Linked DNA regions of Homo sapiens. The protein of the gene in region 3 purifies or fractionates together with the protein of the main gene of each other region. This does not show direct contact. Each region holds a gene or a part of one and is shown on either strand. Other genes may lie near its edges.

Region 1 (7,311 bases), on a different chromosome or scaffold from region 3:
ATTCCCAAACACACACAGATTCACTCTTCCCCAGACTGATCCCCTATGGTATTCTCTCACTTCTGCAATTACAGTCCCATCCCAGGTCAATCCTCTCCGCCAGAGCTCTCTTCCTACACAATGTCCCTCCCCAGTGGAAATTCTCATCCTCCTGTCTCCACACTCCCATCTGAGCTGTCTCTCCCAGCACTGGAGCACCCCACAGAGGCTCACCTGAGATGAGGTGCTTCTCCGACAGCATGATCTTGGTGACAGGGCTGCGGTGCACAGTGAAGGTCTGGAAGAGCTGAGGCCCCGAGCCCACAGTCTCCGGGTGCTGCACGATGACCCGCACGCCCCCTGAGCTGGTGCCATAGGCGATCTCGATCCAGTTCCCACTGTCACCTGGTGAGGGGCCAAGGATGAGGAGAGGGCCTGGGCCACAGAGACAGAAACCAGGGCAGGGAGAAAGAAACAGGCACAGAACAGAGACACAGTCAGAAAGCAAGGAGAGGCCGGGCACGGTGGCTCACGCCGTAATCCCATCACTTTGGGAAGCTGAGGCGGGTGGATCGCTTGAGGTCAGGCGTTCAAGACCAGCCTGGCCAACGTGCTGAAACCCTGTCTCTAGTAAAAATACAAAAATTAGCTGGTGGTGGTAGTACGCACCTGTAATCCCAGCTACTCAGAAGGCTGAGGCATGAGAATTGCTTGAACCCAGGAGGCAGAGGTTGCAATGAGCCAAGACCACGCCACTGCACTCCAGCCTGCATGACAGAATGTGACTCTGTCTCAAAAAAAAAAAAAGAAAGAAAGAAAGAAAGAGACACAGAACAGAGACACAGTCAGAAAGCAAGGAGAGAGGGAAGGACACAAAAAGATGGTGATGAGATGTGGGAAATGGAGGAACAGGGAGACAAAGGCACAGGTCAAAGGAGGAGAGGCCCAGAGACAGAAATTGTAACAGTGAAACAGCAAATAAGAGAGGAAAGAGAAAGTAAAACAGAGAACAGAGGCCGAGGCAGGAAGATTGCTTGAGGCCAGGCGTTTGAGGCCAGCCTGGGCAACATAGTGAGACCCTCATCTCTACAAAAGATTTTTAAAAAACTAGTTGGGTGTGATGGCATTCACCTATGATCCCAGCTACTCAAGAGGCTGAAGTAGGAGGATCACTTGAGCCCAGGGGGTGAGGCTGCAGTGAGCTATGATTGCGCCACTGCACTCCAGCCTAGGTGACGAAGCGAGACTGTCTCAAAAAACAAAGAAAAATGACATAATAGTGGCATGTGGCGGGAAGGGAGATGAGGAGGAAATGAGTAAGTAAGTGAAATAAGAAAGAGGCCGGGTGCAGCAGCCCATGCCTGTAATTCCAGCACTTTGGGAGACGACGAGAGGAGAATCCCAGGAGTTCAAAACTTGCTTAGCCAACGTGGCAAAACCCTGCCTCTACTAAAAACACAAAAATTAGCTGGGCATGGTGGCAGGCACCCGTAATCCCAGCTACTTGGGAGGCTGAGTCTGGAGAATTGCTTGAACCCAGGAGGCAGAGGTTGTAGTGAGCTGAGATTGCGCCATTGCACTCCAGCCTGGGTTGAATGACAGAGCGATACTCTGTCTCAGGAAAAGACAAAAAAAAAAAAAAAGAAAGAAAGAAAAAAAAGAAATAAGAAAAGGGCCTTACAAAGAAGAAAGGTGATAATGTGTCATGAAGTTAGGTGTATTATTAACTTATTTCTGCTTTAAAAAAAAAAGAAAAGCAGCAGCAGCAGCTATGGCCAAGCACAGTGACTCAAGTCTGTATTTCCAGCACTTTGGAGGCCAAAGTGTGAGGATCACTTGAGCCCAGGAGTTCAAGAGTAGCCTGGGCAACATGGCAAAACCCTGTCTCTACAAAAAAATACAAAAATTAGACAGGTGTGGTGATGCATGCCTGTGGTTCTGCTGTTCAGGAGGTTGAGGTAGAAGAATCGCTTGAGCCCGAGTGGCGGAGGTGGCAGAGAACTCACATCATGCCACTGCACTCTAGCCTGGGCAACAGAGCAAGACCCTGTCTCTATTTTTTTTTAAAAAAGAATAATCCCTGCTTCACACCATACATAAAATTTAATTTCTGATAGAACAGACTTCCATGTAAAAACTAAACTGTAAATCTTCTAGAAGAAATTCAGGAGAAGATCTTTGTAACCTAGAATAGGTAAGGATATCTTAAGACCCAGAAAACACTAACCATTTAAAAAAATATGCTAAGTGAAAAATGCAGACACAAAAGACCATATAATGTATGATCCCATTTACAGGAATTGTCCAGAACAGGCAAATCCATAGGTATAGGAAGCATATTGAGCCTGGCCAACGTGGCGTAACCCAGTCTCTACTTAAAGTAGAAAAATTAGCCAGGCATGGTGATGCACACCTGTAATCCTCCCCTACTCAGGAAGCTGAGGCATGAGAATCGCTTGAACCCAAGAGGCAGAGATTGCAGTGAGCTGAGATCATGCCACTGCACTCCAGCCTGGGCAGCAGAGCGAGACCTTGTCTCAAACAAAAAGAGAAAGCATATTAGTGATTTCTAGAGGGTATCAGAAGTGAGAAATGTGGAGTTACTGCTAAAGATCAGGGGGTTTCTTACGGGGGTGATGAACATACTCTGGAATTTGTTCATGGTGATAGTTGTACAACCTTGTGAATATACTAAAATCCGCTGAATTGTGCACGTTCAAATGGGAAATTTTATGGTATGAGAATTACGTCTCAAAAATTAACCCATTCTGCATTTGATGTCAAGAAAACAAAACAAAAAACTGTCTCAAGTAAGAGAACTCAGGTTCATCTGCTGTAAAACCTGCATCTGTGTTGTTTTATGAACATGTGAACATCATGCCTTAATCACAAAGGTGGGAAAGAAACACAAAGATTAACTCCTAATGGTCCATTCTGCCCCTAGTGGAGAGGGTGGCCACCATCTAGCACCTAGAACGTGCTTATATACAGGGATACTCAGTAAATATTTGTTGAATGACTGGATGAGAGTTGAATCTGGCTGGGCGCGGTGGCTCACGTCTGTAATCCCAGTACTTTGGGGGGCTGAGGCGGGAGGATCATCTGAGGTCAGGAGTTCAAGACCAGCCTGGCCAACATGGTGAAACCCCATCTCTACTAAAACTACAAAAATTAGCCAGGCGTGGCAGTGGGCGCCTGTAATCCTAGCTACTTGGGAGGCTGAGGCAGGAGAATCGCTTGAACTCAGGAGGTGGAGGTTGCAGTGAGCCAAGATTGCACCACTGCACTCCAGCCTGGGCAACAGAATGAGAGTCTGTCTCAGAAAAAAAAATGAGAGAGAGTTGAATCTGCCGCCCCTCGATAAACCCCTCTGGGTCATGCTACACAAGTTGGGGGACAGCTGCAGGCTGGGGCTGGGGCTGGCAGGTGACAGCAGCAGGGGAAGCCGGGTCATAGCTTACTGGTCTTGGGGGTGAGGTAGACACTGAGGGCGGTGACCCCATCCTCCGCTGGGTCCCGATAGAGCTCGCTGACAAGGAGGTCGTTGTCTTTCATGCGCAAGGGGAACTTCTGCACATCTGGGGTGGGCAGGGAGGGTGGAGCGGGTTTGTTCCAAGTGCCCCAGCCTCTCTCCCTCCCTTCCCCTCTCCCAGGGGAGGGTCTCGGGCACCCGGGACACAGGCTGCTGCTCACCCACGTAGTAAATGGAGCCGTTGTTGCAGCCCAGGAGGAGGAAGGAGCCTGCCGCGTCATAACTGGTGATGGGCTGCACCTCCTGGACCTGGGGGTGGGGCAGGACAGGCTGCAGCCGGGAGCCCTTCCATTCCTTTCCTTCCGTGGTGACCCCTCACAGAGGATGGGCCCTCTCCTCCACCTCCAGAACCCACCCACTGCTCCCCAGCCCCGTCCACCCCAGGCCTGCCTTTGTCCCTGTCTTGTTCCCTCCCTTCCTCCCTTTGATGCATCTGTCTGTCTGACTCTTGGCCTCTCCTGGACTCTGTACTTTTTAAAGTTTTAATTTTTTAAATTTTTTGTAGAGACAGAGTCTTATTATGTTTCCCAGGCTGGCGTCAAACTCCTGGGCTCAAGCCATCCTCTTGCCTCGGCCTCCCAAAGTGCTGGGATTACGGGCGGGAGTCACTGCACCCGGCCTCCACTATGTACTTCTGACATGACTCTAATTCATCTCCATTTATCTCTCTGAGTTCCCCCATCTGCCACAGTGGTTCAGTCTGGTTTGACTCTGTCTACCCTTCTCTGTCACCTCTTTCTGATTTTCTATTTCTATTTGCCTGGTTTTCTGCCTCTCTGTCTCTTTCTCTGCCTCTGTCTGTCTTTCTCCCAAAGCCATCCTCCCACCTCAGCCTCCCAAAGTGCTGGGATTACAAGTGTGAGCCACCGAGCCAAGCCAGTTCTTGTCTTCTACAGCATCCCCCCTAACCTGCTCTCTCACCCAGTCCCAAGACAATCCTCCCTACTCCTTTTCAAACCCATTCATGCTTCATGTGGGCTCTGCAGCACCTCCTCCAGGAAGGCTTCCCTGGTGCTCCTTAGGCCTTTATCACAGACATCCCCAGGCTCTGGCCAGCTGCTGGTTCTCTGGCTTCCTCCAGGCTTAGGGGGTGGGGGTGGGGGCAGACGTGAACCCCTTCCTGGGTCTGTACAGTCTGGAAAACTGGGAAGGGGGCAGCCAGGCTGGCCAGAACTCTGACCTGCCAGTGCTTGGTGACGGCATTCCACACCCCGATGCGCCCTGTGTGGCTTGTAGCAATGAGCTGGTTCCCGACGAAGAACAAGGCCTCCACAGGCACCCCCAGATGAAAGACCCCTGCAGTGGGCAAAAAGGGCTCAGCTGGAACCCTGCCTCATGGAGGAGGAGAGGTGGGAGGAAGAACTCCAAGGACCAGAGGGTTCAGTGGGACCACAGAATCCTTGAAGGATAGAAGATTCCATCAGGGGCTGGGCACAGTGGCTCACACCTGTAATCCCAACACTTTGAGAGGCTCAGGTGGGCGGATCATTTGAGGCCAGGAGTTTGAGACCAGCCTGGCCAACATGATGAAACTCCATCTCTACTAAAAAATATAAAAATTAGCTGAGTGTGGTAGCACACAACTGTAGCCCCAGCTACTTGGGAGGTTGAGGAAGGAGAATTGCGTGACCCCAGGAGGCAGAGGTTGCAGTGAGCCGAGATCATACCACTGTACTCCAATCTGGGCAACAGAGAATGACTCCATTTCAAAAAAAAAAAAAGTGAAGATTCCAGCAGGAATTAGAGAAGATAAAATGGGCCAGAAGATTTCTGATGGGGTATGGGATTCTAAAACGGTCTGGAATTCTAACAGCACTGAGATTTGCAATAAGGCAAAAAAACCTCCACTGGTGGCAGGGGATTCTTACGAGGGCTGAGATTTATTTGGGGACAGATTAATAAGTCCGAGATTTGTTGCTGTGGCTTTGAGACAGGGTCTTGCTCTGTTGTCCAGGCTGGAGTGCAGTGGTGCAATCATGGCTTACATAGCTCACGGCAGCCTCGAACTCCTGGCCTCAAGCAATCCTCCTGCCATGGCCTCCCAAAGTGCTGGAACTACAGATGTGAGTTACTGTGCCCAGCCATAAGTCAGAGATTTCTTTTTTTGTTTTTTTTTTTTTTTTGAGATGGTGTCTCACTCTGTCCACTCTGTCGCTCAGGCTGGAATGCAGTGGTGCGATCTCAGCTCACTGCAACATCTGCCTCCCAGGTTCCAGTGATTCTCCTGCCTTAACCTCCTGAGTAGCTGGGATTACAGGCACGTGCCACCACACCCAGCTAATTTTTTTGTATTTTTGAAATAAAGACTGGGTTTCACCCTGTTGGCCAAGGGGGTCTCGAACTCCTGACCTCAAGTGATCTGCCCGCCTCAGCCTCCCAAAGTGCTGGGATTACAAGCATGAGCCACCGCACCGGGCCAAGTCAGACATTTCTCATGGCCACACAGAATAGCGCATTCTAACAAAACCAAGAGATCTAACAGGGCAGGGAATTCTGATGGAGGGAGAATTGTATGTGGGTGGATTTTTCTAGGAAGCCAGGGAATTCTAACAGGATACAGAATTCTGAAGGGCTGGAGCATTCTAATGACACAAACAGATCTAATAGAGCAGAGAATTCTTATGGGTTTGAGGATTTTATGGGGTGGGTCATTTTAACAGGCAGTAGAATTTAAAGGACAGAGGGTTCTGGAAAAGGCTTGGGGTCATACCTATCTCGGAGCCACCGCCTTCCGCCTGCAGAGCCCATAGCAGGATCTCGCTGCCGGTGGCTGCTGCCACCATCTTGTCATGTTCACCCAAAGCCCCACCATGCACCCGGGCTGTGAGCGCCAGTCGTTCGATGGGCCAGTCCAGGCGGGGGCTGGAAAACACCAGCTGCCAGCCAGAGGCTTCCTTCAACCTGTAGGATCGAGGGGACATCACCAACCCTCACCGCATGCCCTTCCCATCAACAGGGCTGGGACCTCCTGCCACTCCCTCCCCAAGCACCTGTAGCAGACTAGAAACTGGGTATAGGCCACAGCGATCCAATTATGGTGTCCACACACCAGGCGCACCATCCCCGGCTCCTCAGGTTGTCCTTGAGGGGAAGAGTAGGGATCAGAAGAGGGTCACAGGGACCCCACAGCTGCCCCAACCTTCCACGAGATAGAAACGTACCTGAGGGTGAGGGAGGGGTTTTCTCATCCAGCATTCGGCCCAGCAGCCCTGCATTGCCAAGGTTGGGGGGCATCGTGTTGCTCCGTCGGACAGGGGCTGGCCGTCCTCCTAGCTGCTGAGGCCCCACTAGGCTGTGCCGGTTCCGCCGCTTCACTGGGAACACTACAGTGAGAATAAGAGGTAGAGTAACAGTCATTGTAATCGTGGCTGTCACACAGCAAGCACTTAAAATATGACGGTGATTGATTTCCCCATGTGTGGGACATAGTCTCCGGGTGAAGATTTTAAGTGGTGCAGTGACACAGCATGAAATGACACTGAACCACATAGCAAGTTACTTCCCTTTCAGTTCCCTTGAGCCCAGCACAGAGGAAGACTGAGTTTAGTGCTGCTGTGATATTAATGAATCTGCAGTATTACCTAATTTTCCGTTTTTTTTTTTTTTTTTTTTTTTGAGTTGGAGTTTCGCTCGTTGCACAGGCTGGAGTGCAATGGCACAATCTTGGCTCACTGCAACCTCTGCCTCCTGGGTTCAAGTGATTCTCCTGCCTCAGCCTCCCAAGTAGCTGAGATTACAAGCACCCACCACGACACATGGCTAATCTTTTATATTTTTGGCAGAGATAAGGTTTCACCATG
Region 2 (7,311 bases), on a different chromosome or scaffold from region 3:
GAAGGACACTGTGCAGACTCAAGGCCACTCTGGGTCTCTGGTCTGCAAGGCCACCTCTGCTGGGCCATCTAAATGTCTACAGTGCAGAGGCTACCTGTCTCTGGAGGCAAGAAGGTGGCCAGGCTGAGGTCCCCAGGTGTCCCTCTAAGTGTGGTCTGCTCAAGCTGTTTCTCTGCAGTGGCTGGAGGCCATCCCACGGAGGAGTCCCAAGACCACCAGCTGCCTTCAGCACCCACCCTTCGCTCCTGGGACAGCCTGGGGATATGGAATCACAACCTGACACCCAGGAGGTTGAGGTTACAGGATGAAGGCAGCCCGACAGCACCAGTGATTAGGGAGGTTGAGGAACCTCCTCTCTACAGGATGGGGAACGAGTCTGATGTGAAGATAGAAAGCAGATGCACTGACTGCCTTCAGCTCAAAGCCCTGGGTCTGCTCCCCGCCCTCTGACCCCTAGACATACTGCCCACCCCCTCCAAGGACCAAGGGCTTGGGATCTCCTCCCCAGTAGCAGGTGAGCTGGTCATGTCTCAGGGTCACTTCAAGAACTCAGGAGGCCAGGCCCCAGGAAGAAGGGATTGGGAGAGAGGGAAAAAGAACATTTCCTTCAGGTATTGACCTGCTCCCAAGGCCCAGGAATTCCCAATGTCAGCCACAGAGATTTCTTCTGAGGAAAAAGGAGCTGGGAATCTCCAGCCCCCAAAGATGATCCCAAGGGGAATGAGACTTGGGCAACCTCAGTGTCACCTAAAATCCTGCCTCTGCCCTATTCCAGGACTGTGTTCTGCCCACTGTCCTCCCTACCAGGTGAGCACAGTGGGCAGCAGAGGTTAGAATAGAAAACCTGCTCACCCCTGTCCTGGAGAACTCTCTCCTGGGGTCCCTGCTCCATCCCTCAGCCTTACTTCTTGTCCCTTGGGCTTTCTCCATCTACTCTTCCCATACTCCTTTCCCAAGATCTAGGTGACGCCATTCTACAGGCTGACACCAGAGGGCACAGAGTGCCCACATCTCGAGGCTCCAGGAATACTCAGCTTTGCTCACACATACCCCAGGCCCAGCCACCACCACCACCCTCCTGCTCCAGACTCCCAGCGGGCCTGACTGGCTGGCGGCAGCTCCAGAGGAGCTGGCCAATTCCCATCATACAGCCCAGGTCACCCCCCACTCCTCTGGAGATAAGGAAGGAGAGGCTGCTGCTTCCAGAGGGATCTCTATACTGAAATTCCTGAAGGTCCTACCTTAAGACACTAAGCCAAGCTAAGTGTAACACAAAACACACTCCCCGATCTGATGGCTGTCTGAGACCAGGTTTCCAAGCCCTCCCCCACTCCGTGGAGCCTCCAGCCCCTCAGGAGCAGTCTGAAAATGCCCGGTCTGGACCACCGCATCCCCAGTGCTCACCCGCTCATCCCCTCGTGTGGACTCATTGTCCAGCAGGGGCTCCCCGGGAGCCTGGATTGTCACCGACTTGTCCCCTCGGCCCCCATCTCGACTCTTAGAGCGGTGTCGGTCCCGGCGGTCCCTGCGGCAGGAAGCCAGAAAAGGCACAGAAAGTCCAGTGGTGGACCAGGGTCTTCTCAGCAGCCACTCTACCCTACCACCCCTGCACGTGCCCACCTCTTAACAGCCCCCAACCCTCCCTCCGCCACGCATGTCACCCTGCATGCCTGCCCACCTGTGCTTGCGGGAGCTGCGGGAGTGGCCCGACTTGTAGGAATAGCCCGAGTACTGGGACTCGGTGTCCATGGCGTCTGAACGCCGCGCCTTGTAGCGCTCCAGGGCCGCAGGCTGGGGCCTCTTGGGGGGCCCCACAGCCACCTCCTTCAGCACCGGCTTCTTTAGGCCAAGAGGCACCTTCAGGAAGTCAACTGTCACCCTGAGGGACTCTATTTTGCTGGACGGGTGGGCTTGTCTCAGAGAAAATCCAGCGACGCTCCTGGTGAGAGGAAGAAGCTAGTTAGAGGCGGCTCGAGCTCCCTGTGGGGTCAGGGCAGAGGAAGACCATCTGCACACAACAGCCACAGGAGGCTCAAATGAGCCCAGCCATAGCCTGAGAATATCTCCACCCAGGTTCCTGCTGTCCACTGGGCCCAGTTCCTCCTACCCTTCTCTAGAAAGAGCCCTGCCAGGCTGTGCCAAGGACTCAGGCATGGGGGAAGATGGCCAGCAAAGGCTCCCAGGGCAGGAAGGCTCACCCAGAATGACCCAACCCCAAGCCCTCTGGAAGGGAGGAGCAGGGCATTGCTTCCCTATTCTCAGCCAGGGAAACCGAGGCATGAAGAGGGCAGGTTCTGGCCAGGCCAACAGGCTGAATCAGTGGACACCTCAGAGAGCAGAAAGGAGCGGGCTTCTGTCCAGGGGCTACCCCAGGCCTCTTCTCCCCATGCTACACCTCCTCCCCTCACTCATACTTTCTGAGTGTGCCCACAGTGGGCTGCTTCCCTTGATACCATCTCCCCAGCATTTACTTCAAACACACCCAGTGTTACCGGTAAGATCAGGCTGGCAGCTTCCTTGAGGTTGCCACACATATGCACAGCCCCAGGTGAGGGTGAGGGGTGGAAACTATGGATAATATGGTAGGGGATGGGAGGAGAAGACAAGTTTCTACTTGCCTGAAGTTCTGAAACAGGCAAGGCACAAGTTTATCTGCCTATTTATAGGCTTATCTTCAACCATACTTCACCTTCTGATTCTGCAGAGGAGAATGACCTCTCCTCTCTCTAACCCCCACCCAAATCCTGCTCATTCTTCAGAGCCCGGCCCCACCCCCTCATAGGAGCCCCCACCTACTCTAGACCCAATGTTATCTTCCCTGCTGACCCTGACTCCCCTAACAGCCATCACCATCCACCGAGCGCTTACTTCCTATCTTCAGTCATTGACGCATCAAATCTTGTTTGAGCACCTTCTATGAACCATGTATTCTGCTAGGTATAAAGTGGTATAACAGACCCTGAGTTTACAGTCTAGCAGGGAAGGGGCACACCAAACAAGTAAGCAGATAAGTATAAACGACCGATTGCAGGCATGATGGAAGGGCAGAACAGCAAACTATGAGAGACACCCATGGAGTAAGGGCTACCACTTTAAACTTAGCGGTTCTAGAAAGTCTGAGAAAAGGACACCTCAGCAGAGGCCTGAAGAAGAAATAGGAATTAACCAAGCAAAGAGTGCAGGAAAATGCCCATGGAGCAGAGGAATCACATGTGTGAAGGCCAAAGGCAGGAAAGAGCTTGTTGTATTTAAAGAACCAACAAAGGCCAGTGGAGCTAGAGTTGAGGAAGAGAGTGGGTGGTAGAAGGTGGCACTGCAGAGACAGCCAGGCACCAGGTGAAGAGCTTGAGCTTTATTTTATTCTAAGGCCACAGGAAAACTTTGAAGGATTTTAGCTATGCAGATATGGATTGAAAAGAGGGAAAAATAGAAACAGGGAGATCAATAAGGAGGCGACTGCAGTAGTACAGGCTTGCTAAGGGTAGAGCCACAGAAGAGTGAGTAACAGTCATGTTTGAGACTTAATGTTGGTGGTCAAATCAACAGGACCTAATGAGCGGGAAGGGAGAGTTAAGAATCCCCGGCCTGAGCAAGGGAGCAGATGGTAGCACCATCAGTAGGGTAGGGAAGACTGGGGAGGAAGCAGCCTTGTGAGGGAAGATAATTAGTTCAGCTTCTAGCCTGCTAAGTTAGTGGCCATGAGACAGTAGGCAGCCAGGTGTCAGACGAGCCAGACTTGGAGGACAGTCTGAGCTGGAGGTACTGAGTGTGTGAAAAGCTATGGGGATAGATAGAACTCAGATCCAGCTGAGTTCAAAACCTAACTCTTCCATGGACATAAAGGACCCCAATAGGTAGACATGTCCAGAGGAAAAGGAGCAGGCAAAGGGGATGAGAAGGCCAGAGGAGGAGGGGAGCCAGAAGAGTGGGGTCTCAAGGCAGCCAGAAATTTAACAGTGTTTTGAGGTGGGAATTAAGTCAACCAGGTCAAATGCTGCTGAGAGGCTGATTATGTTAAAAACTAAAATGGGGCCGGGTAATCCCAGCCTGTAATCCCAGCACTTTAGGAGGCCAAGGCGGGTGGATCACGAGGTCAGGAGTTCAAGACCAGCCTGGCCAAGATGATGAAACCCCGTCTCTACTAAAAAGCATGGTGGCAGGTGCCTGTAATCCCAGCTACTTAGGAGGCTGAGGCAGAGAACTGCTTGAACCTGGGAGGTGGAGGTTGCAGTGAGCCGAGATCATGCCACTACACTCCAGCCTGGGCGACAGAACGAGACTCCGTCTCAAAAAAAAAAAAAACCTAAAATGGATTTGCTTTGTATCATTACCTTTACTCCAACTACTCTAAACCATCAGTAATTTGAGAATAAGCAATATGATTGATACATATTTATATCCATCTCGCCTCCCATGGGCACAGAGCAAGGAACTGATACCAACCTAGTAAATGAACATAGTCATGCCTCGCTTAACCACAGGGATACTTTCTGAGAAATGTGTCATTAGGCAGCTGCATCCTGGGAACATCATAGAATGTACCTACACAAACCTTGACGGTATAGCCTACTACACACATAGGCCTTATGGTATAGCCTATTGCTCCCAGGCTACAAACCTGTACAGCATGTTACTGTACTGAACACTGTAGCCAACTGTAACACAATGGTAAGTACTTGTGTACCTAAACATAGAAAAAGTACAGTAAAAATACAATAGTATAATTTTATGGGACCACCATCATATATGTGGTCCATCGTTGACCAAAACATCCATGACTGTATGCCTCTCTGGCTCTCAGGGAAACTATAATGACTGTAGGGAGATGAAAGCATGTGAAATCTATTCATTCATCTTCTTAACAGAGTTCAATGGAGGCAATCCTCCATAGGATTAGTTATATTTGTCAGTATCCCCATGTCAAAGCACGTGCGTGATAAGGACACACTTAGAGGACAGGGACATAATACCTTAACCCAACCATAAGCCTTTCCAAAAAACTTTGCAGCAAAAATGACCCTTATTTATCCCCCTACCTGAAAAATATATGTTGGGCTCATCTACCCACTCTCCTGAGGACCCATTCTACTGGCCTACTCCTCCTTATAGTTTAGACATCTGACCTGCATTTCTCTTGTGGTTCCAGCCTATTCTTTCTAGTCTTCTTCATAAAAACTGAATTTTGCTAGGAGGCTCAAAGGCAACGAGTGGGTCACAGAGTGACATGGGGGTAGAGAAGGGGGTGGAGAAGTAAACAACTGCCACGGACTAGAGTCTAGACACACACACTAGATCCCAGGCTGTCCATCTCCTCATCCTCCTGTATACCCATCATCTGCCAAAGCCAACAGCCAGAAGAGCCAGAGATGTGCACTCAAAGATCTGAGTTCAAAACCTAACTCTTCCACTGACTAGCTGTGTGACTATGTGCAAGTTACTTAACACCTCTGTGCTTGTAGCCTGGTAAGCTCATTAGTAAAATAGTGAAGACAATGATGCCTTTTCATGGGGTAGCCGTAAGGATCACGAGGGTGAAAGAAGTGCTTTTATAAATGGTTCAGCTAGTAATTAGTTAAGCAATTAACAAGTTTTAGCTCCAGGATCACTCATACTCCAATCCTCAGACACTTCCTCTGAGACTAGGGAAAGAGGTGGTATAAATAAACCCTGCTGTTAGTACAACTAAATAAAGAAGTCTCACACATACACACACACACACACACCAACCAGAACCACCACTTCAAACACACCCAGAAGGTAAACTGATGCCATTTCATTTCCCCTACAGATAAATTTCAAACCAGACAAGGGTACCAGTCCCCTTTTGTTCTGAGCTGCCCAGCCTAGTGCCCCCTATCTTCCTCCCCTGCTACTTACTAAAGACTCAACATGAATCCTGCTCCCCTGGCCTGCCAACCCAAGTCAGAGTGCCCAAAAAGCACCAAAACACGCTTGTCTCCTCCCTACCAAACACAGGTGCCAAAAATGAACCCGACTTCTGAGACCCTTGCCTGCTGTGTCTTCAAGTACACCAGGGAACTAATCCAAGCACTGCTGCTGGGGGGCCTGGGAGGAGGGAGGAGAGGGGAGTAAAGAGAAGGGCAGAAGTTCCCCTTATTTAATCAGTCTCAGGGATCAGGGGTTTGGAGGGTCCCCTGGGTGGGCAGCGTTCCCAGGGAAGAGATGGGGGGAGGGGATGGCTGGATGAGATCAACAAGTGGAAACGTCAAGAGGGATGACGAGACAGGGAGGGAAGTCCGGACTTGGTGCAGGACAGGGAGCTGCCCTAGTCTGGGGAAGGGGGAGGCTATAGAAAAGGAATGTGCCCCACTGCCTTTCACCTTGCCCCCCACTTCCCAAGACACAAACACACACACTCAGTCCCCTGCTCAAACCAACCATGGATTATCTGGGGTTAAAATGAGGCCAGGGAGGAGAGAGGGAGAGAAGAGAGAGCCTGTTACAAAAAGGAGACCCTTCTCCCCTCCAAAGGCCTTTCAGAAATAAAATTAATGGAATGTGTCTCAGTATCATCCCAAGGGGATTGGGGGGGAGCTTGGCAGGGGGGAATGTGGGGGCTTTTGTCCCTGCTGCCCAGCTTCTCCCACATTGATCACCATGGCAACAAAAGCCCCCTGTTGCCTAGGTGATGGCAGCCGGGTCCTGGAACCCATACCCAGCATCCAAAGGGAGGGAGGTTATGGAGGTGGGGGCAATAGGGACAGAGGAGGAGAGAATGGGGTTTCTCCTCTGGCGGCCCCAGCTTTTGTCTGAGCTCTGGGATCAGGTTTCTTCAGGAAACAATTGGAGGCCTCTGGAAAAAATACACTCAGAACCTGGCAACAGGCAGAGGGAGCAGGGCCCTAGAGTAGTGCGTGCGTGCGTGCGTGTGTGTGTGTGTGTGTGTGTGTATAAGGGGGGTGGGTGTTGGCCAAAACACAGACCAGGGCGGACCAACCCTTTCCCATTTCCCACTCAAAGGAGGCGGCTCAAGTGGGCAAGGCGTTGAACACAAACGCCAGCACCCCCATGTGTGGCGCGTGCTGGGGGCCGATGACCAGACGCAGGCAGCTCCAGACGCCACCTCCTGCCACTGCTCTAGCCCGGGCCCACCCCGCAGCCCAGTCCCGGCTACTTTAGGCCTGGGGTGAGGTAATGAGACAGAGCATAGATGCAGACGGGGCTGGGAGAAAGAGCTGTGGAAACCAGGGTGAGTAGGCCACGGAAGAAAAGGGGGGCAGGGACAGAGCAAAACATGTACCTAAAAAGGGCACCTAGTGTTCCTCATCTCCACCGAGGACAGGGCTGGAA
Region 3 (7,311 bases):
GGTGATCTGCCTGCCTCGGCCTCCCAAAGTGTTGGGGTTACAGGCATGAGCCACCGTGCCAGGCCATATTTTCTAAATCATTTGTTGGTTTTTCAAAATTGTTTTCGTGATTTGTTGTTGATGTGGCTATTACTAACTAAATGAGACCCGTGTCTGAGCCATTATCTTTCTGATAGGTGGAACTGCATCAGACTGTTCCAGTTACTTTCCTAATACATTGATAATCATTAGGGAACTTGTAAACTGAATAAGTAGCTAATTTCTGTTAGTATCAGTGATACTATTTGTGGTGCTAAATGCTATCTCTCAGCTTCTGATGAACCAAGAGTGAATATATTAAGTTTTTAGCTCTTATAATACTGTTTAGTATTTGTATACATTCAGTAGATCTACTGTTGAGCAAGCCATGAAAATAACTTACTGGATTATATCATTGACTTAGGTTGGGCCTGATCCTCAGGCCAGATGAGAGAAGGAATGGGGAGGCAACTGAAACCATGCCCTCTGTTGCTGAGCTGCCTGGGTTCAAATCCTGCCTCTGTCACTTGAGCTTTAATTTGTTGCTTCTATTTCTTCATCTGCAAAGCTTTGTCATCTGCATGCATCCAATGCCAGCAGGGCTGGGTTCTGGTCTTGTATTGTGGCACAAGAAAATACCCCTATTTTGGTGACTGAAAGCAACACCCATTCTGTTATATCTCATGACTTTGTGAGTCAGGAATCCTAGAAGGGCTTGGCCAGAGGCCTCTTCTGCTCTGTGTGGTGTAGATAGGGATTTCTCAGTGAATGTGGCCAGAGGATCCAAGATAACTTCTCTTGCATACCTGGTGTCTTGATGGAATGGTTGGAAGGCTGGACTCACCTGGACTCCTTAGCATCCCCATCTGGATACTCCAGGAGGGTGGTTGAATTTCTTACATGGACACTCAGGGTTCCAGGAGCGAAAGGCAGAACCGTTCAGCCTTCTTAAGGGTGAGACCTGGCACTGGCACAGCGACTCTGTTGCTGAAAGCAGTCACAAGCCAACCCAGATGCAAGACTCAAAGAACTTGCAGTCATCTTTAATCTGCCACAGGGGATCATTTGGGTTGGGAGGATGGCTTGGGAGGACAAGTCAGCAGTTCTTTTACTACCTGTGCCAGCTTCAGCATACTGGTGAATTTCAAGTCTCATTACCTCCATTTTACAGATGAGGACACTGAGGCTTAGAAGGGTCACATGACTTGCCCAGCCCCTAGAGATACAGATACACATCTGCTTATTGGGCCTTCTGAAAGGTTCCACATAAAAAGAAATTTGTTGGGTTATTTTCCAAGCTTATGGGACAATGGAACACTTTTTTTTCAGAGAGTCCCTATTAATAACCCATGACACATTAAACCTTGGAGTTGGGCAGTTTGCTCCCCTTGTTTTGATCCTGTGCTCTTCATCACTGGCAGTGTGGTTTCTGATGTAGGCCTGCCTCAGAGGAAAGAGTCTCCCAGTGATGCTGTTGTGAGCATTTTGATCAGGGTGACAACAGCATTTCTTAATGTGAATTAGTACATGATGTGCTACAGGGCGATTCATATTGTTTATGTTCTTTTGTTTGTTCTTTGTTCTGTTTTGTTTTTGTTGGTTGGTTGATGTCATGTCACAAGGAAATGTGTAGAATGTTTTCATAAGACATTAAATCCTAGTTTAAAATTTAGAGATGCCAGAACCAAAGTTGTCACCCTTTAACAGGGTGACAGGCTTCATGCTCTATTCTCTCAAATAATTCATTCTCTGAGGGGTCTAGATAGCTAAGATTTAAATTCTCTAGGTATAAATAAAATTCAAAAGTAACCTTCAGGGTAGCACATTTCAAAGAACGTAGCCTGAAACTCTGTATAATTTTTTGTTTTTGGAGACAGAGTCTTACTGTGTTCCCCAGACTGGAGTGCAGTGGTGCGATCTTGGCTCGCTGCAACCTCTGTCTCGGGGATTCAGGGGGTTCTCATGCCTCAGCCTCCCAAGTAGCTGGAATTATAGGCATGCGCCACTATACCTGGCTAATTTTTTGTATTTTTAGTAGAGGTAGGGTTTTGCCATGTTGGCCAGGCTGGTCTTGAACTCCTGACCTCAAGTGATCCACCCGCCTCAGCCTCCCAAAATGCTGGGATTGCAGGCATGAGCCACTGTGCCCAGTTTGAAACTACTTTCTAAGCGCATTTTCAGATTCTCTCTCAAAGATTTACCAGTGATTTATAGTGACAGCTCCTGCCAGCTAGGATGATGAAGAGCACCTGAAAAAATGGTTAATATTTTTACTTAGGCCAGTGTGAATAAAATAAGAATTCCTTGAAATCACTGGAGCTGTATTTCTGTGTGATCCTGGAATTCCTTCTAATCTGGTTAGGTTTGGTTATATTCTGGAAACAGCTTTGTTGCTTGAGTAGTGAGGACAAGAAAGGATTTTCACCCGAAGAGAAGAAATCACATAAGGAAATTCCAGGACAGACAGGAATCGCTTTTGAGCTGTCTCCCTCTACTCCCCATAACCTTGGCATTAACCTGCCGTCCTTCAGACAAGAAGCATGTGTAGACTGTTTCACACATGCAGTAATTTCTTTCCTGTTGAACGTCAGTGTAGAAAGTGAACCTGCATCTGGTTTTTCAGGTCGGTAAATAACCAATATTGCAAAAAGGTGATTGGCGGGATGGTGTGGAACCCAGCCATGCGGAGATCCTTATCAGTGGAGCACTTAGAAACCAAGAGTCTGCCTTCTCGTTCCCCTCCCATTACTCCCAACTGGTATGTCCTCCTTTTTTTTTTTTTTGTACTACCCAACAGTAGACACTTTATCTCTTTTAAAAATAAAAACTCAACTTATAAACTCCTAAAGATAGATGACCTACAATTTGCATTTTAGGCTCTTGGCAGAAGTAACTGTTTTCATGAAGTACACAAGTCTAGCTAAATGTTTTCCATCGTGTATAATGCTGAGATGCTCTTTTTAAAAAAACTTATTCAATCTAAATAGTTTGGGAAACTCGAGCCTGCTGAAAGGCCTCCTTTGGAATCACAGCACACATTAGCATATTAAACACTCTGAGACGTCCAATAATAAAAAAGTACGGTTAGCTTTACTTAATTCATGTTTTCCATTAATATCCCACAAAATAAACTTTAGGGAAAACTAACGCAGGTACGTGATGTAAATGATGTAAGGATGTATGACCTTCAGCAGCAGAAGCAAATGCACATCAGTAAGTAGCAGGCCAACTTAAGAGGATGGACTCAGCTTAAAAAGAAATAGGTGGTCGTTTGGTAAAGTGAGAAGGGCACTGGGTTTGTAGCAGAAAGACCTAAACTCAGGTTTTGGCCCTTCTGTTAATTAACAAGTTTCTTTACCTCTGTAGCCTCAGTTTCCCCATATCTAAAAAGATGATAAAAACTACCGCAAATGAAATAATAATGTACAAGTACGTAGTAAGCTTTTAAAAGAGTCAGGTGGAATTATCATTATCTTATTATAATGGTCCTCAAAGACATCACACCATTTTTGTGAATACCTCCAAAAAGGCTAGGGGCCAGAGGGGAAACCTAGCAGGGAATCATTGCCCCCAGCTCCACACTGGAGTAAGAGTGCGTGGCTGTAAATACCTGATCCAGGATCTGCTAAGCCTAAGAGAAACTGGGAGACAGGCAGACAGAGGAGATGCTGTGCTGGGCCTGCTAGGGAAGGACCCCTTCACTGGGGGCCTAATGCTCTGGGAAGGGACAGTGATAGTATTTAGTGTTAGAAATCATGACGTAACTGAATAGATTTGCTTCTTGGTTTCCAACATTTAGATACCTCATTCTAAAGAGGTAAATTTATGCTATAACACAGCAGCTTAATTTATCTGAAAATCTCATCGGCAGCAATGCCAGGGGCCCAGAGAGCCCAGGACTGGATCCAGGGGAACAGCGGGGTTGGATGTTGCCACACTCGTGGCCCGGAGCTCCTGTGGCTATTTATAGGTCCTCTCCTGAGGAGTCACAAGAGCCTTTTTACTTCTGCTTTGGACACAGCATTATTGATTATCCAGGCCCAGGGGGATTGCAAATCATGGAGGCCCTGACAGTCCTGAGGAGAAATGGCTAACAAAGAAAGGGAAGATGGAAAAACTGTGAGGGAAAATAGAACTTAGAAAGCTTGGCAGCTTGGGATCCCCCGCTGCAGGAGCTGACGCCCAGGTGCCACACTGGATGCCCTGAGAACACGGCCTCATTGGATTCATTCTCAGGAGCAGGTAAGTACAGCCGAGGCCCAGAGAGGTGACGTGCCTTGCCCAAGGTCACATGCCTACTGCCACTGTTGGAGGACAGTCCAGTGTTTATATGCCCATCTAATGCATATAAACGTGTTTAATAAGGGATATATCTTAAAAAGCAAACATTTTCTCTTGGATCAAGTGAAATTCACATGAAGGGATGTCGTTGAAATAAGGTTGGAGTTTTGCTGAGAAATGTAGTTTGGCTTCTAACCCTTTTGTTTGCATTGTTCAAATTAATCAGAAAAATTATCTGAATAGCAGTCCATATGGCCTATTTATGTTTTGAGAGCTTGAGTCCTCCTGGAAGAATAACTTACCCTTAAGTCAATACCCGTCACTTCCCAAAGGGCATAAACCCATCTAATTCTGCCTGTTTATACAGCTGAGGCTACTGTTTTGGGAGCCACCACTTGACTGAGAGTGTTAGGGATTTGTGTCACCCTTGGTGCCTTCTGCTGGGGTAGTAATGAGTTAACCGGCTCTGAATGTCAGCCTCCGCCAAGGAAGGCATCCTTAGAAAGGTCAGGACACGAGGTTCACTGGTGTCTAATAAAATTTTTAAGTGGAATTTGCTTTGAACACTTTGCACTCAACGTTTTTCCCACCCAGGCGAAGTCCTCGGCTCCGGCACGAAATCCGAAAGCCACGCCACTCTTCTGCAGATAACCTTGCAAATGAAATGACCTACATCACGGAAACGGAAGATGTATTTTACACGTACAAGGGCTCTCTGGCCCCTCAAGACAGCGATTCTGAAGTTTCTCAGAACCGAAGCCCGCACCAAGAGTAAGAAACTCGTGTTGTTTTATTTCTGGGTATTTGCTTTTTGGCTGTTGCGGAATTTGCTCAGGTCCAGGTTGCCATTTGAGAGGAACCAAGAGCTGGTGCCTGCAGCCAGCTCCCACAGGTGCCTTCTGCCAGGATAAGAACATAAATCAGACTCTACCTTTTCACCCGGAAGACGGTCTATGTGCCTGGGGTCTAGAGCTTGTACTTCTTTTTGTCCACGACAAAGACTTCCTAGTCACTAAGTACTTGTTAGTCTCTTGAATTAGTCTCCTCTCCAGCTCACAAGCAAAGCCCAGTTTAATCATTCCCTGTTCTGGAGGTACAGACTCTAGGGCCATGCTAACTCTGATTTCTCTAGATTATTAAAGTTTTACCATCACATGATTTCAAATCATTGGAAATATGCTTGCTTCTAAAAGCCTTCTCCGAACAACAGGGTTCTGAGGGGTTTTGTTTTCAATTAATAGTTAGTATAAAGAAACAAACGTTAGAACATCTCTAATTTTCTTTGAGAAATTTTTTGTTAAATTTTTATGTCCTACCTCCCCCACCCCGCTTTTTTAACGTGACAGAGTTCCCTCATAGCTCAAGGACAGAAAAAATGTCTGTCCTGAAAGATGGTTGAGTGCTTTTGTTATTCAATAGGATATATTTAACCCATTTGTTTCCCTTTTTGCCTTGGTTACCAGGGAGTTCAGAACTGCACATTAGGCTCAATTGTATTCACTTCCCTCAGCCCAGATTTCTTGTATAGGACCTTCTCTTCCTCATTTGCCTTTGTTATATGGGTCTTTTTTTTCTTATTTTAATGGATTCATAGTTACATATCTGTACGTTTTGGGGTAAACTCGCAAATCATTTTTTTAAGTAGGTAAGACATAGATTATAAATTAGGTTAAAGCATGATAGTAAAGGATCAACTGTTAGGAAATCAACCATAGTCATTGGGTATCTATTCTGTTAAGCCCCATACTATTTCTAAAATATAGTAAGATAATGGCCCCCCTAACAGCTGAGGATTAGCAAGCAGGCACGTTAGTTAATCTGTAAATTTTTTACCACTGTAGCTATTAGGCTGAAAGCATCAAATGCACCCTGATTGGACTCCAGGCATTTGCAGGTGAATTGCAAATCTCCTTCCCATTTGTATGTGAGGCTGCTACCTCTCCTCTGTCCTTGCCCACAGCAAACATGGTTTCCAGTTTATCTGTGTTCTTAACACCTCTGGTTAAATAATCCCTGTGGTCATTCTTTCCTTGTGACCTGAGCTTGGATGATGCTTTTGCTAAATGATTGCTATCTCTTGTTCCAACTTGCAGCCTGCTGCCCCTTTGTCAGGGCTACAGTGGATGATTGTGAGTTCCTTTGTGTGACTTTGTAGCTTTTCAAACCACAAGCACATCTAGAAATACAAAGCAGGAGTGCAGGCATGCGTGACTAGAGCCGTTTTGAGTCTGCAGTGGGGGCTCTGCGGCTTTGGCAAAAGGAGAAAACGGTTTAGGGAAGCGTTGGAGGGCTCTGGGAAGCCCACTCACACCTGCTGCGTCAGAGCTTCCTGTGGTGGTTTGCAGTCCCATCACAGAATTGTACAGCATCTAAACCTTCCCTGTCCAGTACAGCAGCCACCAGCCCCAGTTGTCTATTCAGATTTAAATTAATTAAAATAATAAAAATGTAGGCATTCAGTTCCTCAGTCACATGAGCCTCATTTGAATTGCTTGACAGCCACACAGGAGTGTTGGCCTCCATCTTGGACAGCACAGATACAGCCCATTCCCATCACTGCAGAAAGTGTTGTCAGCAGCACTCATCTAGACTAACACGTTTATTCCATCGTTCATTTAAAGGGTGAACCCCTAGAATATCTACAAGCGAAAAGTGCATTTTTCACACAGAATTCATGTGGGAGTAGGTTTGGAATCATCACCTTGCTTGCAGTCTGGGCGCTCCACACCACTCACCCAGCTGCTCATCTGTGGCATGGGGCAGGTGGATAGCCTCTGAGTGCCCTCACAGCCCAGCACCCTCTGTCTCTTTATGCAATCAGTGCCAGGTGGGGAGGGATGCATTCTGTCCAATGACATGCAGGCACTTTAGAGGGCTTGCATTCATTCCCAAGTCCAGCGGCACACTTTATACATCCTTGGCTGGTCATTGAGGGGAACACCGGAGCAAATCAGAGAAGTTGTTTCAGGAGCCTCCAGGCCAGCTGGGCAAATAGCACATTATCAGCCTACG
Region 4 (7,311 bases), on a different chromosome or scaffold from region 3:
CAAACAAATCAGTCCTACCATGATTTCTTTAGTAAAAATGAAAGACTGAAAATAGGAAAATTGTTTCAAAAACTATGGTATGCTTTTTATTAGATTTGTCTCATCAGTAGTTTTTGAGTTCTTTCTGCAATTTGGACTCATCCTGCTTATCCTTGTGGACCAAGCAGTGATCTGTGGCTGCTGTTCAGAAGAAACAAGAGGCATGGGTAACACAGAAATCTGGATCAGTATTCTAATTGTGGGCATGTATTGGAATTGGCTAGCACATCAGCTTGGTTCCAACTCCATATCAGCTTGGTTACAACAATTTCCCAGTTCATGAAAAGCCTTCTTATTTAGTTTACTTGGGATAATTTTACTTATTTTGCCTTGTTATTGTAGAATATACTGCTGTTGTTCTCTTTGTGTAGGAATGCAAGATAAGCTTACTCAGTGCTTTCTTAAATCGAACACTTATTAATTTTTCAGTCATCACTTTTTGTCAGAAATCAGAGTTCTCACCATACTGACAGTTTCTAACTGAGCTCTCCTCTACTCTGAATGCAGAAGACCCTAATAGGCAGAAATACCATCATCCCTATTCAGACTGCAGAAGTTACAGAAGATGAATCTTCCTCCCTCTGAAACCCTTAGGATTAAGAGTACCCTTGTAAAAGGGAAGGGGAAAACATGTCAGAGGTGTTCAAACCAGAGTTGAATGGGGACTGAGTAAAATAAGGCTGAGACCTGCTGGGCTGCATTCCCAGGAGGTTAGGCATTCTTAGTCACAGCGTAACAAGGAAGGTCAGCACAAGGTAAAGGTCACAAAGATCCCGCTGACAAAACAGGACGGAGTAAAGAAGCCAGCCAAAACTGAAACCAAGATGGCAACAAAAGTGACCTCTGGTCGTCCTCACTGCTCATTATACGCTAATTATAATGCATTATCATGCTAAAAGACACTCTCACCAGCCCCATGATAGTTTACAAATGACATCTAATGTCTGGAAGTTACCCTATATGGTCTAAAAAGGGGAGGAACATTCAGTTCTGGGAATTGCCTGCTCCTTTCTGAAACACTCATGAATAATCCACCCCTTATTTAGTATATAATCAAGAAATAACTGTAAGTATACTCAGTCAAGCAGCCCTCAGGGCTGCTCTGGCTATGGAGTAGCCATTCTTTTATTCCTTTACTTTCTTAATAAACTTGGATTCACTTAAAAAAAAAAACTATATAATCTCATCTTTTACAGACATATTACTTCTAAGTTGTTTTTCTCTATAGTAATTAGGGTATTACACAATAAAGAGATGTCAAAAAAGGATAAAAGAATCAGGACAGCATATTTAAAAATAACTATAACAACTACAGAATTTAACTCTTAATAAGATATGTGAATTTACCTGTTTTTTAAAAAATTACAAAGAAGGTACATATTTGCTCTATAACTTTCCATACAAGTAATACATTTAAAATATGTAGAACAAGGCCAGGCACAGTGGCTCACGCCTGGAATCCCAGCACTTTGGAAGGCTGAGGCGGGTGAATCACTTGAGATCAGGAGTTTGAAAACAGTCTGGCCAACATGGTGAAACCCCGTCTCTACTAAAAATACAAAAATTGGCCAGGTGTGGTGGTGCACACCTGTAGTCCCAGCTACTCAGGAGGCTGAGGTGGGAGAATTGCTTGAACCCAGGAGGCAGGTGTTGCAGTGACCCGAGATCACGCCACTGCACTCTAGCCTGGGTGACAGTGCAAGACTCTGTCTCAAAATCTCAAAAACAAAACAAAACAAAAAATATATAATAATAAATAAAACAAAATATAAAACAAGAATATGCTCTGTTATTTCACCTCTCCATCATCTTACTGCTGCCTAGTGAACCAACCCTCTGGTTAAGACAGCTATGCGAAGAATAGAGTTACGTCTAGTTATTTCCTACATGAAGACCTCAATAAAATACAGTAGAGAGGACATGCCCTGTGAGATTTTGAAACTTATTATGAACATACTTCACCTCAAGTTGTATGAGAATAGACATATGTCTTAAGGAAATGAGAGAACTGAAAAACAGATCCAAGTATATACACACACATAAAGCAAGATAAAATGGGCTATCAGATTCACTGACAAAGAATGATTTACGTAATAAATTGTCAGAACATAATTACCTACCCACTGAGAAGAAAATAAATCCTTAAATCTCATACCACATACAAAAAAGTAAACTCCACAAGGATTAAAGATCTAAAGTGGAATATAAGCCCCAAGGGGGCAGCAATTCACACAACTACTCTTCGTTAATAGAAGTAACACTGTCATAAACTCAGCAAGAAAAAGGGACATAAACATAAAACCTAACCATGTAGAAAATTAGTGAAGCTAGGAGAACATCATACAGGTCTTCACTGTACTACTCTTTTTTTAAAGGTTTTGTAACTTACTGATACAAAAACTTGAGGAAAAATAACTTGTAAAAAAGATTACACTTTTAAACAGTTTAAATATTTTTCTTTCTTTTGAAATCTTTTTATTGCCATTGTGTTGAATGATTTAACTATATGTGAGGAAATCCAAATATGTCCTCAATTGTCTTCCTTCGTCACTTTACATGAGTATATTGCTCTGAAATGTCAGACACTTGGTGAAAGCACAGAAAGATCGTGATCAATGCAAACGCAAAGACTGGAAAATGTAATAGCATCATCCTCCATACAATTATTACCCAGTGAGTTAAATTTTGCGTAATAATGTGGTGGTTCTGGAAAAGAGCAATCTTTAGTATTGTGTACAGTAACAAAACGGAAGTTATGCTGTTACACTTGGATCACTTATCATTTCACAATTCTTCTGGAATTCCTTATTGACAAAAATATGTACATAATATGTAAACAAGGGTCTACAAGTCACCTCAATTCAAATATATAAGATGATAAATTCAAAACAATGCTTCCTAAAAAAAAATTACTTTACCAAATTAGTCTTGCCTCATACAAAACCATCCCCAAAGAAATTATGCAAAAAACAATTTCCATGCTATTTCATAATTAAAATTACAAATCCACAAAACACTTTTTTTAAAAATTTGTTTATTTATTTATTGAGACAGAGTCTTGCTCTGTTGCGCAGGTTGGAGTACAATGGTGAGCTATCAGCTCACTGCAACCCCCACCTCCTGGGTTCAAGTGATTCTCCTGCCTCAGCCTCCCGAGTAGCTGGGATTACAGGCATGCATCACCACACCTGGCTAATTTTTGTATCTTCAGTAGAGATGGGGTTTCACCATGTTGGTCGGGCTGATCTTGAACTCCACCCATCTCGGCCTCCCAAAGTGCTGGGATTACAGGCGTGACCCACCGTGCCCAGCCAAAACACTCTTAAAACATAAAAGTCTGCACTTAATCATTACTACAAGGAAAATATAAACCTGAGATTACTGATATAAACAGCACTTACCAGACATGCCAAACCTTTCATAAATTCAGATTTTTAAAAAAAAAATACATCTGGGATTCTTTAAACTATATCTGTAAACTTTAGAAGACATTTTAGATATTTTTCAGCTTATTGTGACTATTTTTCTTAACCGAACTCAACAGTGATAAACAAATAGTTTATGTATCTTTGATTTTTCTGCAATTAAATGAAATAATAATCTAAGCTAGTATATTCCAACCACTTTTGTGCTTCTACACCATTCTCTGTCATCAACATTTCTCAATGAGTACAGTGATTTTGAACTAAGAGTCCTATCACTTTCCCAATTAAAAAAAAAAAAATCACCGGTCTACACTATTCTTCATTGCTTCTCAGGCTCTGAGAATGTAAGCATTAGTAAAACCAAACTACTTCTTTGTAAGTTTCACATATTAGATATTAAACTATACCACTTGTGCAATAACTGTCCTGCTTTACTACCTCACTTCCCAAAATGTGGTATTTATGACCAATGTACTCTCCCTTGCTATAGAATACAAAACACTGAATCATTAGAGATAGACCATCAGGGAGCTCACATTAATAATCCTGTCTAACATCATTATATACTACAGTCTCAGAAGCTAGGTATAAGCAATAAATAATACATCAGGATATCTCAGTTACATGACAATTCACACTTGTCTGCTAAATGTTTACAACAGATAAAGGCTATCAGAAACATTTACCAAATTAGCTGTGAAAATAAAAGTACACTAAATCTTAATCAGATGATACAGACATGGGTAAAATATGCAGGGAAAAAACTTGATGACTAAAAAAAAATAGCTTTTCAATCTAAAAATATAAAATCACAATTAATTTTCAAACTGCCACCTGTAAAAGCAAAGCATTATTAATTATACACTACCTGTAACACACAGCAAAATGGGCATATGCAGCTACAATCCAGTTGTGATGGCCAGCTACTATTAGCACCTTTCGTGGATCCACAGGAAATCCTGTTGATTTTGGAAAAAGAAATATTTTACATTCTAAACCGGGGGTTGGCAAATTACAGCCACCAGGCCAGTTTCAGCCTTCTGCCTGTTTTGGTTAATAGTTTTGTTAAGAGCCGGGCACAGTGGCTCACACCTGTAATCCCAGCACTTTGGGAGGCCGAGGCGGGCGGATCATGAGGTCAGGGGATCGAGACCATACTGGCTAACACGGTGAAACCTCATCTCTATTAAAAATACAAAAAATTAGTCTGGCATGGTGGCGGCCGCCTGTAGTCCCAGCTACTCCGGAGGCTGAGGCAGGAGAATGGCGTAAACCCAGGAGGCAGAGCTTGCAGTGAGCCAAGATGGCACCACTGCACTCCAGCCTGAGCGACAGAGCGAGACTCCGTCTCAAAAAAAAAAAAAAAAATAGTTTTGTTAGAACCCAGCCATGCTTACTTGTTACATATTGTCCATTATGTGTTCATGCTACAATGGCAAAGTTGAGTAGGTCTGACAGAGAACACGTGGCCCACAAAGCCTAAAATATTTAATCTCTGGCTCTTACCAGATAAATTTTGGCAACCCTGTTCTAAAGATTCAGAGAAGATAGAAGATTACACAACATTTTAAATAAAAATTAAGTGTTAAATGAGACCTTTCCAAGATATAAATGATAAATCTGGATAAAAAAGGAGATGAGGCAAAAATCTTTAAAAGTAATTACTCAATATCACCCAGCACTAAAAACATACGTATTTTTCTTTTTCTATTTCTGTAATCTTTGCTTACCTAGCCTAACAGTTTCTTCTCCCGTTCCAGAGAGAACAGGCTGTGTACCATTTCCCCGGGCTTCACCTTCTGTAGAATTTAGACCATTCCTAGAATCAGCAGATCTGACTGTGTTGTTTATTTTACGACTAGGAATACCTATAAAGAGAAGAAGAAAACAAATACATTCCTAAGTTCACCTTTCAAAAATTAAAAATATCACATTGTGACAAAGAAACAAAAATGTGAATTTCATTAAAGCCGAAATACATCTTCCAATATAGCAAATTATTACAAATAATTTAATTACAATTAAAAAATAAAATGAAAATGAAAAAAACAAAGACAAAGACAAAATTCTGTCAACAGATTTCTGGTATTGTCATACTGTTTACAATAAATAAGCTTTAGGTTACTGAATTAATGGGTAATTAATTCAGTCTGCCAGCCACTCTTTACAATTATGGTACAGGTATTATGTGTTAGGTACTATGTAATAATTTAACTGCTTTAGAACTGAAATTCCCCATACTTTCAAACATTTTTTATTTGACAGGGGAACATTTTTTAAAATGAAATCTTGCTCAGAAGTCCATTATAACACAGGTAAAATCAGGCTCTTCTAACTAAAGTGGGGCTGAGGTGACACTGACTTATCTCTGCAGAATTCCTTAAATTTTGCAAAAAAGCAGTTTGACAACCAGTGCTCTAACATATGGGTCAGCAAACTATGGGCCATGGAAAATCCAGCCCAATCAATGCTATTTATGTAAATAAAGTTGTAGTGGTTACAGTTAAACCTAGTCTTCATGTAGTATACACAGCGGAGTTAAGTGGCTGTCACAGAGATCCTCTGGCTCACAAAATCTATCTGGCTCTTTACAGAAAAAGTTTGCCAAACCCCTGCTCCAATATATAATGTGACTTAATTTCTATAAAAATCAAAAGTTCTTACCATTTCTAATAGATTTATAGACAAAAAACTCAATAATCAAGGAGCAGTTTTTCCTATTCATATGCTTGTACTTGCTTAATGATACAAGGAATTTTTTAAAAGATTTAATAAAGTGAAAATACCTGGTGGGGGCAAGTAACCATGAAAAAGGACACTGCCACAAGAGGAACGCTCCAATTCTTCACATAAGAGAAGCCTTCTTACTAAAAACATTTCAAAGCAAACTTGTCAAGAGTACATGCAAACAGAAAAACAGTACTCCATTTTTATTTTCTCTAGTTCAAGAGGATAAGGAAAGAAAAGGAAAATTTTAATTAAGTCAGAGTTGACAACATCTTTTTACTATGAAAATCCACAAAAACTAAGCACTGAACAAGTCCATCAAAAATTAGGACCTGATATAAACACATTTCATTTAGGGCAACTTTCATACATGAGTCAAATCATAAACACCAAATATTAAAAGAGCACATACCTAATGGAGTGATCCCGTAAAATTCTGCTTCATGCCTGAGAACATTAATACTCACTCCCCTACAAAGAAACAAATGATGTAAATTCTCTAACACTGGAAACCTGTATTATCATCTGACATGAAAGGAAAAAATTCTAGGTTCTTCATGTATATAGTCATAAGGCTTTAAAAATTATTTTCCTCCTAATACTCTTTATTTCTATTATCCTTAATCATTAAAAAGTGTAAATAAAAACTGCATGTGAACAAAAATATTCTGTTATCTACTTAAAAACCATTCATATATATACATATATATGAATTGGGTCACTAAAGGAGAGATTAGGGCTCTATCAGGCTAGTACAAATAAATTGTCTAGAAGGCAAACGATAGAATGGAAACCATTCTTTTATGGCATTAGTTGCTTTTAACTTTTTATCGCAATTATTTCTATACATATCTATCTTAATCTCCCCAATTACACTATAAATTCCCTGCGAGCATGATCTATTTCTGATCTATGTTTGTATACCTCACAGTGCCTAGCATAGTGCTTGTATAAAATAGTTATGTAATAAATATTTGTTGAACAAATAAAATAGAAAAAAAAAAAAGACTAGCCTTGGGAAGGGCTATGTTATCCAGATGAAATGATGCTACTTCATAGTAGTAAAGTTAAGTAACATGAAATAAAATTTTTAAAAAATGGAAGATTCAGAACTTATAAT

What was found.
Region 1: the proteins of PTPN3 (region 3) and SHKBP1 purify together in Homo sapiens (affinity purification with mass spectrometry; 4 studies listed by BioGRID and IntAct, with this or other methods). This does not show direct contact.
Region 2: the proteins of PTPN3 (region 3) and VANGL2 purify together in Homo sapiens (affinity purification with mass spectrometry; 3 studies listed by BioGRID and IntAct, with this or other methods). This does not show direct contact.
Region 4: the proteins of PTPN3 (region 3) and KCTD3 purify together in Homo sapiens (affinity purification with mass spectrometry; 4 studies listed by BioGRID and IntAct, with this or other methods). This does not show direct contact.

What each region holds. Positions count from the first base shown.
Region 1 is NC_000019.10:40,579,847-40,587,157, reverse strand, and holds part of SHKBP1 (SH3KBP1-binding protein 1), read right to left. Parts: intron 6,835-7,311; coding exon 6,673-6,834; intron 6,593-6,672; coding exon 6,502-6,592; intron 6,413-6,501; coding exon 6,222-6,412; intron 4,808-6,221; coding exon 4,692-4,807; intron 3,761-4,691; coding exon 3,673-3,760; intron 3,558-3,672; coding exon 3,441-3,557; intron 415-3,440; coding exon of another isoform or gene 385-414; coding exon 214-384; intron 1-213.
Region 2 is NC_000001.11:160,410,276-160,417,586, reverse strand, and holds part of VANGL2 (vang-like protein 2), read right to left. Parts: intron 1,940-7,311; 5' UTR 1,750-1,939; coding exon 1,679-1,749; intron 1,526-1,678; coding exon 1,405-1,525; intron 1-1,404. UniProt on the Homo sapiens protein: Involved in the control of early morphogenesis and patterning of both axial midline structures and the development of neural plate. Plays a role in the regulation of planar cell polarity, particularly in the orientation of stereociliary bundles in the cochlea.
Region 3 is NC_000009.12:109,418,183-109,425,493, reverse strand, and holds part of PTPN3 (tyrosine-protein phosphatase non-receptor type 3), read left to right. Parts: intron 1-2,641; coding exon 2,642-2,776; intron 2,777-4,008; exon of another isoform or gene 4,009-4,260; intron 4,261-4,893; coding exon 4,894-5,070; intron 5,071-7,311.
Region 4 is NC_000001.11:215,577,021-215,584,331, reverse strand, and holds part of KCTD3 (BTB/POZ domain-containing protein KCTD3), read right to left. Parts: intron 6,663-7,311; coding exon 6,604-6,662; intron 6,404-6,603; exon of another isoform or gene 6,342-6,403; coding exon of another isoform or gene 6,332-6,341; coding exon 6,251-6,331; intron 5,333-6,250; coding exon 5,195-5,332; intron 4,424-5,194; coding exon 4,333-4,423; intron 1-4,332. UniProt on the Homo sapiens protein: Accessory subunit of potassium/sodium hyperpolarization-activated cyclic nucleotide-gated channel 3 (HCN3) up-regulating its cell-surface expression and current density without affecting its voltage dependence and kinetics.